Homo sapiens: one gene and its partner. The protein of the gene in region 2 interacts with the protein of the main gene of each other region in a pairwise test. Each region holds a gene or a part of one and is shown on either strand. Other genes may lie near its edges.

Evidence for each region.
Region 1: the proteins of BAZ2B (region 2) and SEPTIN2 interact in binary tests that used the Homo sapiens proteins (3 or more experiments, as listed by UniProt).

Annotation. Positions count from the first base shown.
Region 1 is NC_000002.12:241,311,841-241,319,146, forward strand, and holds the start of SEPTIN2 (septin-2), read left to right. Parts: upstream 1-4,084; 5' UTR 4,085-4,142; intron 4,143-4,337; exon of another isoform or gene 4,338-4,475; intron 4,476-4,581; exon of another isoform or gene 4,582-4,627; coding exon of another isoform or gene 4,628-4,715; intron 4,716-5,658; coding exon of another isoform or gene 5,659-5,759; intron 5,760-6,396; exon of another isoform or gene 6,397-6,504; intron 6,505-7,306.
Region 2 is NC_000002.12:159,613,397-159,621,557, forward strand, and holds the start of BAZ2B (bromodomain adjacent to zinc finger domain protein 2B), read right to left. Parts: upstream 3,153-8,161; 5' UTR 2,846-3,152; exon of another isoform or gene 1,898-2,845; intron 1-1,897. UniProt on the Homo sapiens protein: Regulatory subunit of the ATP-dependent BRF-1 and BRF-5 ISWI chromatin remodeling complexes, which form ordered nucleosome arrays on chromatin and facilitate access to DNA during DNA-templated processes such as DNA replication, transcription, and repair.

The DNA of each region.
Region 1 (7,306 bases), about 82 Mb from region 2:
TTGGGCAGCCATGGATCCGTTTGCACTGAGAAGGCAGAGGGTGAAAGAAAGCTAGGAACTTCCTACCTATTCTCAGTGTCAAGCGAAGAGACATCACATGAAACAGGGGTAGGAGACACAAATACAGACGTCAAGCAAATATGCTCTTTAGAGTTGGAGGCAAAGATCAAGGAAATCTACTAAGGCTGAAGTAGATACTCTGCAGGGGAGGAAACATGATTAGGGGAAGGATGTTGGCACTTCTTTCTTACAAGCCTTTCTAGGATTATCTGACTCTACAAATGACATGAAGCTGTAACCTTGATTTGAAATAAGATTAATATGAATGCTAATAAAAAGTAGTAAGGGAGAGTATGTAGTCAATGTATTCTTACCAAATTAACAACAAGTATCAACAAGATGACTAACACAACCACATGATGTCCAGACACGTCTCAGAACAAATGTCTAGCTCATCTTCAACGGTATTCGAGGAACTTCAGTGTGCTTGGTAAAACAATAGCCTACTAGGGATTTCACTTCTAAAATGTCTCTGACTTTAGAAATACCAAAAAATAACATGTAACCAAGTTTTAAAATATTATACACATGAAAAAAGGTTCTTTTCATTATTTTCTTGGTTTCCAGATGTTGAACGTTGTGGTGCTTTTACAATTGAAGAGAAAAAGCATTCTGACACATTATACTGGTTGGGGTTCTCTGCTTTTCTACTTGGTCAAAAACCTTTACACGCATTTTGGACTTTGTGTCATCATAACTTGGCAATTGGGAAAGCCGCATGATATGCTTCTTTCAGAACTTGGTTACTTCTTACCAAAAGAGGGAAAAGCTTTCGTATCACCATTTGCCTATGGGATGGATGCACAATGAACGGGCCATACCAAATAAAAATATCACTTTGTACTCCAAAAAGCATGTTCTCTGCTTAAGCCCTTTCTGTAAGTTTCAGCTGGGACGCACTAATGGAGAATCCATATGACCCACGAAGGATCGTAAGATATCCCAGTGGACCCGGCACAATCATCTCAAATTCTGTTCAGGTCAGAGTATCTTAGATAAAACTCACTGAAGGGCATCAAGTCCTTCAGTACACAGTCTGAGCCAAGCCCTCTACCATTTGCCATGGCAAGAGTATACCAAATTCTAAACCTGTTGCTCACGTATGCCACCAACTATAAATGTCAGCCTCCTCTTTCCTAGTCTTCCTGTCCACTCAGCACCACCTGGAAAAACTCTTACTCGTCTTTTAAACCGCAGTTCAAGGACCACATTCTGTAGGAAGACTTTCCAACAGGTAACCACTGCCTATTTCCTATGTCCACACCTTACACATATTTCTATCATTGCACTTATCACACCATAATGTAATTACTCTTCTACAAATAAGTCTCTCACACTAGACCACAAGCTGCCTGAGGAAAAGAAAAGTCTATATCCTCTTTTTTTGTTGGCTTTTTGAGACACAGTCTCACTCTGTCGCCCAGGCTAGAGTGCAGTGCTACAATCTCGGCTCACTGCAACCTCCGCCTCCTGGGTTCAAGCGATTCTCATGCCTCAGCCTCTTGAGCAGCTGGGATTACAGGCGCGCGCCACCATGCCAGGCTAATTTTTGTATTTTTAGTAGAGACAGGGTTTCACCATGTTGGTCAGGCTGGTCTCGAACTCCTGACCTCAAGTGTCCACCCGCCTCGACCTCCCAAAGTGCTGGGATTACAAGCGTGAGCCACTGCACCTGGTCGAAAAGACTATATCCTCTCAACCTTTGTATCTGCAGAACCCTTAACCCTACACAGCAATTTCCAGCAAATATTTTTTTGAATTGAAATGAAGAAGTGAGGTCATGAGGCTGAAGTCAGACAACTGGAAGGCCAAAACAACAAAACCTGGAAAAATACGTATTTACTCAAGAAGAAATTCTCCCACCAGGCCACTGAGAAGTTAGCTTTGCCCACTGGAGAGGACACTGTAACAGGGATTCAAGTAAGCCTAGTGGCGCTGAGGGACGTGATATAGGTCAACTATATCTTTGAGGTGCTCTCCTTACACTCAATGCACTTTTACCCGAATGACGTTAATTTGACTCCTGATAAGATGAGCTAAGTCCCTTCAACAGTGCTTGGCACCAAGCAAAACTAATAGCAGTAACAGGAAAGTTTAATCCTCATGATGAATTATTTAATGGGGTTTCAAACGCTGTCCCTGAGACTTGAGGCAGTAGGCTCCAGCTCCATTTTCCCCAAGTCTAAAACTTGATAGGTTGATGTTTCAGACTCAGAGATTCGGTAATCCAAATGATGGAAATAATTCTTACCCAAACACCTTTTCAACTATTTTTAAATACTGTTGCCAAGCATCCTAATATCATGTGTACTTAATGAATTTAGCCTAGGGATACTTTTACATGTCAAAAAATCAAAATATAAACCTAAGCACTACGTTTCATCCAGTGTTTCAGCATCCCAGATTTGCTTCCCTAAATGAACATTAAGCTTATTATGCAATGTGCCGCTACCAGGAGCCTTAGACAAAACCCTAATTGTGACTTAACCTATCTTAATAGGGTTTTAAGGAAGTTAGCTGCTAAGAAAGTGACTATCCTTAAGCAGACACCAAATAAATGTGAAGTCATTGATTGAGGGCTTAGGGTATAGGTAGCTATGAATCTGAGGACATAAAACGCAAAACTGAGGGGCAAATCGTCATGTTCCTTAAGATTACGACTCATCCACATTCCTTCAGCCGTTTAATTTCACCATAATAGGCACTGTTTAATAAGCAAAGCCCAAGTCGACTTCCTTCGATTTTACATGGCGTCCAAACACCATGTCAAGTCTGACCCTCTCATTTTTTAAGTCGAATGGAGAGGATATGTAGCAGCTAGCCTTGAGCACCTAACCACTTTTCAAAGGAGCTACGCACAAAAATACCCTAGCAACATGCCACGGTGTCAGAAAGGCTCAGGTTCCCAACACCATGCGGGTCAGCCATTAGGAACTCAGGAAGTGTTTCCTCTAAGCGGGGGAAACCTAGGAAGGCTTCCTGAACGAGGGGTATTTGCGCCAAGCCTTGACGTGAGTCTCGAACAGTTGCAGTGCCTCCAGGCCACGCGGGAGGGAGGAAAGGACACCCCGGGCCGGGGCACAACCCGCGGGCCGGAGCCGCCCGCGCCCATCCCGCTCAGGCCGCAGCCAGGCACGGCACCCTCCCGTCCCCGAGCCACGTCGCTGCTCGTGGGCTCGCGGAGCACTCCCCAGGTCTCACCTCGGGCCCCACACCAGAAGGAGAAAGCTAGGGGCCGCGCCAGCTCCGCCCTCCCCCGCGGGGCGGCGGGCCCCAGCCCGGGCACAGGAAGGCCACGTCCCCGGGGAGGGACGCCCGACTCGATGGTCTGCGCAGGGCCCGTCGGCCCCACGTGACGTGCGCGCAGCCAATCCCAGAGAGGCCCCCCGATCATCGAGACGGCGGCGGTGGTGGGCTAGACGAGTTTCGCGCGGCCGCTCGCCGTCCCCCGCCCAGTCGTACTCGGCGCCCCAGCTCGGTGCTGCCGCCATCTTCTTGGAGGACAGGAGGAGAGGCGAAGGCTCCCCCTCCCCGTGATCGCTCCGCACTCCCGCCACCACCTGCCCTCCCGCGACCGCCTCTCTCCTCCTCAGTGGGCACTTGTCTCCTTCTAACAAACGGCCTTCCCCCCACTCCAGTTACCCACCGCAAGGCGAAGATTCTCATTACCTGTTCCACTCTTATAAGCATAAGAAAACCGAGCTCATAAGGTAGGAACTGTGGCGAAACAGGGACAAGCCGCCATCTTGGTAAAGGAGAAGAGGCTACGCTTGACCTCCCCCCCCACCCCCAGCCTCTATATGGCCAACTGCCGTGGGAGGAGCACGGCGCTTGCGCAGAGGCGGACAACGCGGACGACTCTGGGCTTGCGCACTCGGAAGCCGGCCGCATGGGGGAGGGGAAGAAGGCCAGGTCGCACTGAGCCAGGAAGCAGTTGGCAAAGGGGCGGGGTGACGCGGTGACGCAATCCGCCTGCGCGCTGGGCGGGGCGGGGCGGGCTGGGGCGGGCTGTGAGCGGACCGCGAGCGCTGGGCGGGTCCGCGGCGCGGTCGGTCGGCGCCTGTTCTCGGGCTGTTTGGCGGGTGAGTGTCTCGCCGGTGTACCCCGCACAAGTTGTGGGCCGGCCCTCCCGAGGAGCTGCGGGGGACGCGCCGCTCGTCCCATACTCTCGGGCGGTGGTCGGCTGGCTCTGGGGTGCCGGCGGGGCGGTGTGGGGGAGGGGCGGCCGAGCCCAGGCTCTTCGGCACTTATCGTGGGCTCCCCCGTCCCGGGCGGTCCTAGTGCCGGCGACAGTGGCTCCGACACGGGCAGGCCCGGGCGCGGGAGTGGGGATTCCGGTGACCCCTTGTTGACCCTGCGGGAATTCCTCTGCACTGTCGTCGGTGCTGGGCCTCGGGGCGTCGAGTGCGGTCGAGGTCGGGAGGTTTGGTGCTTGGAGGGAGGATACAGGTTTAGGCCCGACAAACACTTAGAGCTTGTGTGGCCATCTTGTCTTTCTAACGGTGCCATTTCCTCCCTGAGGCGTGGAGGACTGGCCAGCCCCCAAACCTCCAAGCCCATCGGCTGGATGCCGTGGATAAGCGAGGGGAGAGCGACTAGGCCCTGTCTGCGGGTACCTTCGGCGAGGAGAGGCGACGAAGGTCTGCACCAGCGAGGCACGGACAGGCAGCAGGGGGTAGGGTATAGGGTTGGAGGCCGCCGAGTTGGCCCGGGGATGAGGAGCAAACCTGTGGCTTCCGTGGTCTCAGTGGAGTCCCAACTGTGACCTGGCCTACTGGCCCAGACAAACCTGGCTTGCTTTTTTACCTTTTCGGTCTAATTCTTGTCAGTGCCACCAGACCTTGTCCTCTCTCCACGGAAACACACGAACCAACTACACTGAACTTCTTGTAGTTCAAACTTCTGCACCTTTGGCCATTGCCCAAACTCTTAAATCTGGCTACTTCCCACCTTAACTGCCTTCTCCTTACCTAGTCTGTGCTTGTGGGATTCCGCCCAAATTAGATTTCCTCCAGACAGGCTTAGGTGTTTACCTGATGTTCCAGATGGTATTTGTCCAGTGGACTATTGGTGCTGTGAGGGCAGGGCACATGTTGTCACCCATACTCATTGCCTCGGTTGGTGTCTAGCACCTAGTAGGTTCTCAAATACTTTTTGAATCACAGTGCCTGCCGATATATTTAATGTTTCAAAATAGTTCTGCCGTCATAAAGAAAAACATCATGGTGTAGGGGTCATGAAAGCTGATTCTTGATACTTCTGATTTGAGCCTCATTGTTTTCAGTGATTTTTGATAGCTCCCATTAATGGGTTCTTTGCACCACCCAGCATCCTAACTCATGATGTGTACTGTTATGTATAATCTTGGCATTGATCTCATTAGCTATAAAGGTTGTCCTGATTTTTTTTCCTCAACTTCCACCTTGATTTCTCTCACCAGTGCCACAGCCAGGAATAAAGAACAAGAGCGTTTTAATTAGATCAGATTTACATTCTGACTGGCTCTTAAACTAGCAAGGTGACCTAGGGAAAGGGGCCAGGGTTTCCCTCTATCATTCATAAATGTAATTCAGGGCCCCTTTTTATCCCCAATACCAGCATACAGAAACTGCTGTAAAAGAAGAAGTTGTGGGTATTTTTTTTTTTTTTTTTGTCTGGAGGAATGGGGACACCAAAACTCATTTGGCAGCAGAGGTGAGGTAAGGCCATTTGTATTGTCTGTTCTGTTAGTAGTCATACATGCCACTTATCCCTGCCCCAGTCCCTGTTAGGAGTGTTATGTGGGTATACTGAACGTGGACCTTCCCCGAATCCAAAGAATCCAGATGCTTTGAATAAGATCATGGACCTTCCGGGTTCTACATCGCCAGATGTTGTTCATCTTCTATCTTTTGTTTTGCGAAAATTGGTTTTTTATGTGTATTGGGGTTATTCTGTGGAAGAAATAAGCTGTGGGTCAAGATTAAAGAACTTTAAACAACTTCTGGCATGTGGAATAAACACGATCTGAAGGAACAAAATTTTCATTTGACTACATTTTTGGTCCAATTTGCACCCAGTGTTTAAGTTAATCACAGTGCTTGGCAGTTTGTGTTGCTGGATCAAGGCTTTCTCACTGAAAACCATGTGCTTCAGAGGTTCATAATTCCTCTTTCACCTTCCATTTCACATTAGTTAATAAATTATGAGAGAAAACATTGTGGATCCAAGTTATGTTTCAGAAAAAAAAAAACAGGAAAAAAAAAAGATGGCAGGAGAAACTTGGTAAAGTCAAAGCAAAGTTGAAATGTCAGTTTAAGACAAATAGTTTCTCCATTTTCCCATATGTGTGCACAGGGTTCAGTGAGGCTGAGGGGTTCTGTGGAGGTGCGGGAGAGGTGCTCTATGGTATTTCTATGTTGCACTGTGTGGGTTTGAAATCAGATACATGTAATAGGTGATAAGGTAAGTGCCTGCTCTTTTCTATCCTCAGCATTGGCATTTAATCTTTCCATGTGAACTTAAAGCTCATTTTATCCAATCCTTTAAGAAAAAAGCCACACCGTTAGGGATTCCAGTTAGAAATGGACTAAATAACATACTCATTTGGGGAAAATAAAAATGATTTGATTTATGTAGGACCTGTTTTCTAGTTTGGTCCCTACTTGTTTGGATTTTTAAAAATTCTGTTGTAAATGATGTGCCCCCATTTCTATTCCTTGATATTTGTTGCTGGTACTTGACTTACTTGAGATCTTATATTTAGCTACCTTACTAAATTATCGTATTCTAGAATTTTTTTAACCAGAGTATTTGTATTTTCTTTTTTTTTTTTTTTTTGAGACAAAGTCTTGCTCTGTTGCCAGGCTGGAGTGCAGTGGTGCGATCTCAGCTCACTGCACCCTCCACCTCCCGGGTTCAAGTGATTCTGCCTCAGCCTCCTGGGTAGCTGGGATTACAGGCAGGCGCCACCACACCTGGCTAATTTTTGTATTTTTGGTAGAGACGGGGTTTCACCATGTTGGCCAGGATGGTCTCAATCTTTTGACCTCGTGATATGCCCGTCTTGGCCTCCCAAAATGCTGGGATTACAGGCATGAGCTACCGCACCCAGCCGAGTATTTGTATTTTCTGTGTATTCAGTCCAATCAGCAAAAAAGTGTTTTCTTTTGATTTTCTTGTTTCATTATATTCAGTAAACTCACCAAGGTAGTATTAAATAATCATGGTGAAATTGCAATATCTGGATCTTACTTGGATCTTGATT
Region 2 (8,161 bases):
AGAACACAATATTAAGTTCTCATAAATAACTTTGTATTTTTAAAGCATACAATCTGATTTTCTAAAAAAAAAAAAAAAAAAGACTCTTCATCATCGTAGGCTTAAAATAATTTTAAATTCAACCACTTGTTTCAAATACTTGTAAAAATTACTTTTTTCTATCTGAACCATACGAGTGTCTTAATGTTGTCCAAATTACTGATTATGCAGCAGAGTGACAATAATATGTACAGTGTTTACAATAGGTGTGAGACATCAAATGTACTTAACTACCATTTTCTTAAACTGCTTATCCTCTGTTGCTTGCCATTTATAATCTGCCAAATCTTCTAGTCCTTTGTTGCATGTATAATTTAGAACCATCTGTTCTATGTGCTTTTAACTATTTAAACATTTTTCACCTACCTACAATTCACATAAATGGCAGACACTCAACTCAGTCAAGCTTTCTATATAGCATATTACATGAAGCAAATTCCTGGATAAATAGATAACACCAAAGAAGACTGCTACAGAAATAAAAACTTACCATATAGAACATAAATTTCTGTGTGTTACACAAACCTTTTCAATGTATTCAGAATTGTTTCTATTAGCTTTTTTTAAGTTAATTGTAGTCAGTGTTTTTCCCTCAACCCAGAAGACAAAGAGAATGCAAATTAAATACAGACAGTTTCATGTCCTTGTTAGAAGAGATGTAAATATGCTGACTGAAAATGACTACAGGAGACAGAATTCCACTTTCCCATTCAATATACAGTGCCTCTTATTTATATACTAGTCAGTGTATCATTAAGCTTGGTCATGTGACCAAACCAACTTTTGTGAGGCGAAAAACTATGTTAGACAAGCAAATTAAAACAGTGCTAGTTTTTGTTTATCTGTTCATAATGGCTGACAAAGAGTTTATAGCTAGCGATTATAAAATAACTTTTAAAATCAATTCTGCCTCTTAAATACTCAATAATTGTTTGACTTAATATCTGCTACTAAATTTTAAAGTATCCATTATCTTAAGGTATTTTCCATAGTCATTTCTTTTCAAAATGTAAATAAATAATAGAAAAAGAAAACCCCAGAACATTTTATTAGAAACGGGGAGCCAGATAATCTAAAATAACCATACATAAATATTAACCAAGCTAATTTTCAAAAAATCCATAAGGGAGAGTGGAGCAAATAAGAAAGGGAATATACTGACTACAGATAACAGTTGAAACCTTTAAATTAAAAAAAAAAGTACACAAAAACCAGATAAATAACAAATGACGCACAAGTTTTTTACCATTTTTTGCATATAATCTTCCACCTGTTACCAAAACATACAATACGCAGACTTCGTATACTGATTTTGAGAGCAAAACACAAAAATAAGCCACACAACTTATCAGTAACCTGTAAGTTACACAATCCTATAAAACAGGAGAAAAATTAAGCAAAAAATTTACTCTTGGGAAAATTTCTCCGTAAAGTTTACATGACGTCACTGGGCCCCCTGAACATTCCCTAAACTTTGAGACTTATCCAGACACACTTCCTAATACTTCTTTCCTTTCCTCAAAAATAAAAAAGAGAGAGACTTGGGAATAAAATTGCCCAAGATGGCGAAACGCTTGTTGTTTAGAGGGCAGGAAAAAAAATGGAGGATATTGTAATATACACAAAGGGATAAATTTCAACAACTCGGCCAAGGACTGCAGCTGCTTCCCTCTTTATAAGGAAGCAACAGACAAAAGATAAATACAGAGGGAGAAAGAAAAGAAGAGAAAATCTCCCAAACAACAGAGCCAGCTCTGACTCTTCAAACACTTCCTTCCCCTTCTCAAATCCCAATTCTGGGGTTCGTGAAACTACTTAAAGGGGAGGGAGCCGCGAAAGAGAACGGGGGCTGGGGGGAGGGGTAGCGACAAGAAGATTAAAAGAGGGAAGCAGAGGAGTTGGGAGCTGGCGGTCGTTCCCGGGGAAGAACTGCTAAAACATGAGACCAAGGCACAGACCTTACTGTATGAGAAGCAATGCTCCTCAAACCTTCTGCGTGCTGACATAGACCTTCCCAGGTATCCAGATCTTTTCCCAATCCCACCTGCCCCACCCCCACCCCCGCTCATCTTCAGTAAACTCAGAGCCTCCAGCTACACACGGGAGAGCTAGAGGCCCAAGCCGGGGAGTGGGGGTGGCAGACGCAGCTCGTCAGTCCGACAGGGAAGAGGGGGCGGAGGCAAAAAAGGGCAGCAGGAGGCGGACGGGGGTGGGGGGTGATCCAGAAACTACCCCGGCAGGGAGTGGGGGAGCAGCGGATATTCCGGGGTAGGAACGGCCATCGCAACGCTGACAGAGGTTGTTTTTTAAGAAGCAAAACTGTTGGCGGCGACCTGAGCGCTGGAAGCCGAAGGGGAAGAGGAAGGAGACGCGAAGCCAGGGCGGCCGGCACAAAGGCGGCGGACTCGCGGCGGCAGCGCCTGCCCGGCCGGGAGCACAACCCACGGCCCTACTCCAGCGAAGTCCCGCACCGGCTTCTAGGAATAAAGTTTACGTTCTCCTGAGGCCGCACCCCCCACCTCCCACCCAGGACGGCACATCTCCGTGTCCTCCTCCCCCAAACTCCACTCGGGACCCCGAGAACCACCCCAGCCTTCCGGCCACCACAACAAAGAGCCGCACCGACCGGCGAGGATAAACAGCGGCGGAGGGCGAGAGGGCGGCGGGGCGAGCGCCTCCACGCAGCAACTCCGGAGTCCCCCGCTTGCCCGAGCGCAGTTTCTCCGCTGCTGTTTCCACCGGCTTTGTAACACTGGGAATTTACATCCTCACCCGCACCCCTCACGCCCGAGGATTTTAAACTCACCTTTACTCTCGAACTGAGAGTTGCGGTAGATGGGATTTTTGCCTTTTCCCCAGATGGTTGAAGGTTAAGATTTTTGGAAACCCCACCACCTCCTTATTTCTATTATTATTTCTGCAAGAAAAGTATAAAGAGAGTTGTAGTGGAGGTGAGATTTGTGATCGGGAAAGCCTTCGACTCCCTCCTTCTCCGTCTTCCGCCTCTCTCTCTCTGATTAGTTCCTATCCAGCAGCAGATTGAAGCAGGAGATGATTCTTCTCAAGGTTTGTTCAGCAGCTTCACTTCTAGGCGAAGGCTTCATGAACCAAGTGACGTCAACCAACAAGGCTTCTCTCTCTCTCCTCTCTCTAACAATGAAAGTTGCTGTTAACAAGGGAAAAAAAGAGAGAGAATTGTTTATACCATTTCAGTTCCAATAATAAATGACCTATCAGCTCCTAAAGGAGCCAAGGGAGGGGGTTGCTTCTTCTTTCCAAGAATACTGTAGCTTTGAGTTTGCACCGTTCCTTGTCCCAGGAAAAAGTTAAGAAACTTAAAATGTTTTGTTTTGCTTTTAAAGAAGACAGGACAGAAAACGGGATTTAAAACTTAGTTTTTAAAAAAACAAAAGCTACAGAGTAGGGAGCATAGGTCAACCATCTCCACCTAAATTTTTTTTGTTCCTAAACTCAGAATTCTACAACCCAACTAAATTAATATGCCAAGATTTTGCGGATGTTAAAACTCAAAAAAAGCAGTATGCAAGACGGTCCCGGGGTAAAATTCTACTGCCTTTCCACGGACAAGTTAAACTGGCTGTAATGTTTATGCACTAAGTTAAAATAAAATTTAAATAAAAGACGTTAAAATAGTCGTTTTAAAGTTATATGCACACACTGTAAAAGGTAATCTCGATAGCTTTTTTTCAAGTTTCTGAGAGATTAGAAAAAAAGCATAGCAAATTGTAGGCACTGAACACTTTTTAAAAATCAAGTTATGAGTAAGACTGGTAGCCCTTTGCTCCTTTAAACTACAAATGCAGTCATATGCTATGGTCTACCCCCAGAATCTCTTCCAACTTTGTTTTTACCCTTCCACTCCCCCAACCCCAATTCCCAAATCCTGCAACCAATCAAGTTAAACTAAAGATACAATAGGCCCCATTCCCTCCCGCACCCCATCCTATAGATTCCTAAAAACAATTTTTTTAAAAGCCTTAATCTTGATAACACTTTATTAGCCAAGAAGATACGTATTTTTTTTTTTAGAAGTTCGTTGAGGTACCGTTTTTTCCCTCCAGAACACAAGAAAGTCTCAAAGTTCATATAATTAAAAATTGCATAATTTAATTTTCAGGATGAAGAGTAAGTAAAAATTAAGCTATCGGAGAATAATTTGATCATCTATGTATATTTTATACATATGTGGATAAATGTATCTTAAAAGATGCTATTGTTTTATGTTTCCTCTTCAGCCACTGGCTGTGATTTTAATTGTGCTGGAGGATCTTCATTAGTATTAACACATGGGGAGATTTCACAAAGCTGCTTCATTAGGAAAAAAAAAAAGCTTGGCAGACTCGGTCTTTTTGCATGCACTGAGAATGTCAGCCTTACCTCGGTCATTTGTAACATAATAAGTGCAAGTACAATGATTGCAATGCAGGAGCACTGGGGGAAGGGCAGAAATACTGCCTGTCTAATAGGGATATCTGAAAAGAAGGCTGCTCATTACAGAGTAAAATGTATGCTAAAAATTAGTGAAGATGATGTCTCAGGAGACTGATGCTAAATAAATTAATGTGCTGATATGTTTTTAATTATTATTTTTGTAGTAGTTTATTTCATTCTCAGGATTCACATTGAGCAGCAAAGCTGTGCTAGCACTTATTGATTTTTTTTCCCTGCCACATTCCCGGAATACAGATTTTAATCATTTCACTACACCACACTCAGTAATTTCATTAAAAACTGGAATCTTCCATCCCCAGAAAAGCATTTAATTTCAATGACATACAATTTCTCTTTTAGCAGCAAACTGTCTCTACAGTAAAAACTGGCCTAAGGTTCAAATGCATAATTTAATCCTGAGTTTTCCATGCTCTGCATTCCTTTCAAGCTATAATTTGAGTAACTACCTAATAACTGTAATAAGGACAATAATTTCCTTATAATATATTATTAACTCATATTTAATTAACTCGGAGGCCAAGCTCTGTACATGTATGACTGGGTCAACAGTTCTATAATCTCAAAATTTACTAATAATGTTCCAGAAGAAAAATATAGATTAAAATATAAGTATGAATGCACTTAGTATCTAAGACTTCTATCCCAAGTCACATACAAAAAAGTTAATGCATTGTTCTATAATGGTGGTCATTAAATAAATAATATTTTTAAGTATGTGGAACTAAAAAATGGAATACACTGATATTTCTATGCGTAAAGTATTGAATATTAATGTTTTAACAATCTATTACTGACACTTTACCTAATCATTAGCATTACTGTTGAAAATATTTAATTTTGAAAAGATAAGGAAAAAGTGCTAGATTCAAGTTATCTTGATTTTCATAAAGAATTCTCCCAAAATATACCTCGCTTGAAATAAAGTTAAGTGGCACACTGTAACTCGAATAATTAAGAATACATCCTTTGCTTAAATACTTCAAACAATATACTGCAAAGCATGGTTCAATTTTTGGTTCCAATAATATTTTGAAATATTGGGATTGCAGATGCCACACTGGTTTCCCAAACAATGGTTTCATAATGATATGTAATTTACATTGCCTGGATTTTAGAAAAGAAACCTGTGAAAAAAAATAATTTAAAGTAATAAAATTCATTAATTTAAATTGTGGAAATATGTCTAATCTACAGAAAAAACAATATATGTAATGAAAGTGATTAACTACTATATAAAAACTCCAGTCATTCCCCTGAGTAATTTTAGAATCATAATTCAAAAATTTTTATAAGAATATGTATATGCAATTTCAAGCTGGAGCCATATACAACCCAAAGTTGTCTTTTACTTGATTGCACAAGGAAGTAACTTATAACAAAATACATCTTATCATCATCAAAAGGTTGGAAAAAAGGGGAAAAGGGGTGACAGTGAAAACCTTGATTTTAATGTCTTCTAAAGACATTTTAAAATATATTTTTATTATGAAGGGCTCGTTATATACTTCAGGAAATATGTGACATTCCCAATGGTGAAGTTATATGGAAATCAATAATTAACAAAATAGTTGCTAAATGAAAGACTGACATAGGTATCTCAAATTCATAAATATATTTCTCTATTTCAATAAAAATAATAAAAACTTTAATTTTATATTAAAATATATATTTAAAATTATTTAATGTTATTTGGTAATTCAGATATACAAATTAAAATTATTCAATTTAATCTGTATTTTTAAACTGATTCTTCTTAAAAAAAAATGATTTCCTAGAAATTTTAAACTGGATTACTCCAAGTATTTGATACCTTCTTACTAAGAAATTGTGCTTAAATTATTTTTAAAATATGATTCCTTCCCTTTTTCATGTTATCATACTTTATCATTTCAGAGATTATAACATAATCATACAGTTGAGGGGGAAAACTTCAGATAAAATAGTTGCTATAGTTATAAAATAATTTAACTCCCAACAGGACTTCGTCTTCTACCCAAGATCATCATCTGTATTAGTGCTTCATCATGTACATAATTGTGATAGAATTTAATGATCAAGCAGATCTTTTCCAATTTTAGTGAATAATTAACTCTGAAATTCTATACCTATTTACCTATCCCACAGACTATGCCACCAATATGGACTAAATTGTTGCACTTTCTTCTGTAAAGCAGCATCTGTTTTTACGACAAAGACAGAACTTCTTAAATAGGTAGATATAGAGTTGGATGGCTATCTAACTTACTACTATGGGTATTGTAGATGGTTCCTCAAAGAGTAAGAAATTGCTATGTACAGAGAATGAAGTCTAGGAAGGCTGACTACAAAGAAAAACAAACGAGAGATCTCAACAGTATAACAAGCTGGCCACTGTTATATCTTGTTTCTGTTTCAATCATTACAGCCTAATGAAGCTTTATTTGTTTTCATTCATTGAACAAACATTTGAGTGCTTGCTATATGCTACGCGCTATGCTAGAGGCTGGAAAAACATGAAAAGCTCACATTCTGGTTGATGTACAAAGTGTGAAATGCCTGGGAGATTAGAGACTCATATAAATCACATTATAAAGATACAAATAATAAAGTTTTGTGAGAATAAAGAGGATGAGGCAACTAATTCTCACTGAGAGACTAGAAAAGGCTTTATCAAAGAGATGTTATTTGAACTGCATCTCAAATACTGAGAGCTTACCAGGCAAAGAAGTTCGGGGTGGGAGGTGGTCTTCTAAGTGAAAGAAACAACAAGTGTAAATATGCAGAGATACTAGATCTGGTGTCCATCCACTAGTGAGAAATTCTGTATGCGGGAATATTCAGTATGGGGAAGGACAGAGATAAAGGAATGATAGGGATGTCATGACCAAGATGAAGGCTGGGACCTGACAGTAAAAGGCCTAAGTACCATGGTAAGGTGGTTGAATTTATCACAAGAGCCAACAAAGGCTAGCAAAGGAGTGGCATGATTGACCTTGTTTTGAGGGAACAGTAACTGTATAGGCAGTGCAAATGATAGACTGTAGTATTAAGAGATTGCTTAACAGTCCGTAAGAATGATGGTAGAGACAGTGGCATTGGAGATTTACAGCCAGATATTTCTGAGGTAAAATTTCAGTTTGGTGACTAACTGAAAATAGAATTAAGGAAGAGGAAGGAGTGAAAGAGGACTAGAGAAATTTCTGGCTTACAGTAGTTGCTGCAGTCATTAACTATGGGCCAGAATACATAAGGGAAAACAAATCATAAAGTAGTCTGGAATTAAAACCTGGCTATGACGCTTTATAGGCCTCTTTTAAAAATGGGATTATCAGAATCAACTGTAGAGATTGTTTTAAATATCTAGAATTGTCCCCAGTGTCCAGAATTCACTATGTGAATTCAAATGTCCCCAACGTCCAGAATTCACCATGTCTGGGTGGGGGGTCAAGTATTTCTTTTCTTCTTCAACTCTAAAGACGCTTCTGATAAACATCCCTGATTAAGAACACGGCTGTAAGCACAAATTTGTTAAAAAATTCAGTTGGAAAAAGAAATAAGAAAAACACAGGAAATCTTGAAAAAGAGAGCTTTGCCAGGGGTGGAGGGGACAATCATAACAGATACTAAAGCATTATAAAACCTTTAAAGCTTAATAGTTGGCACTGGCACA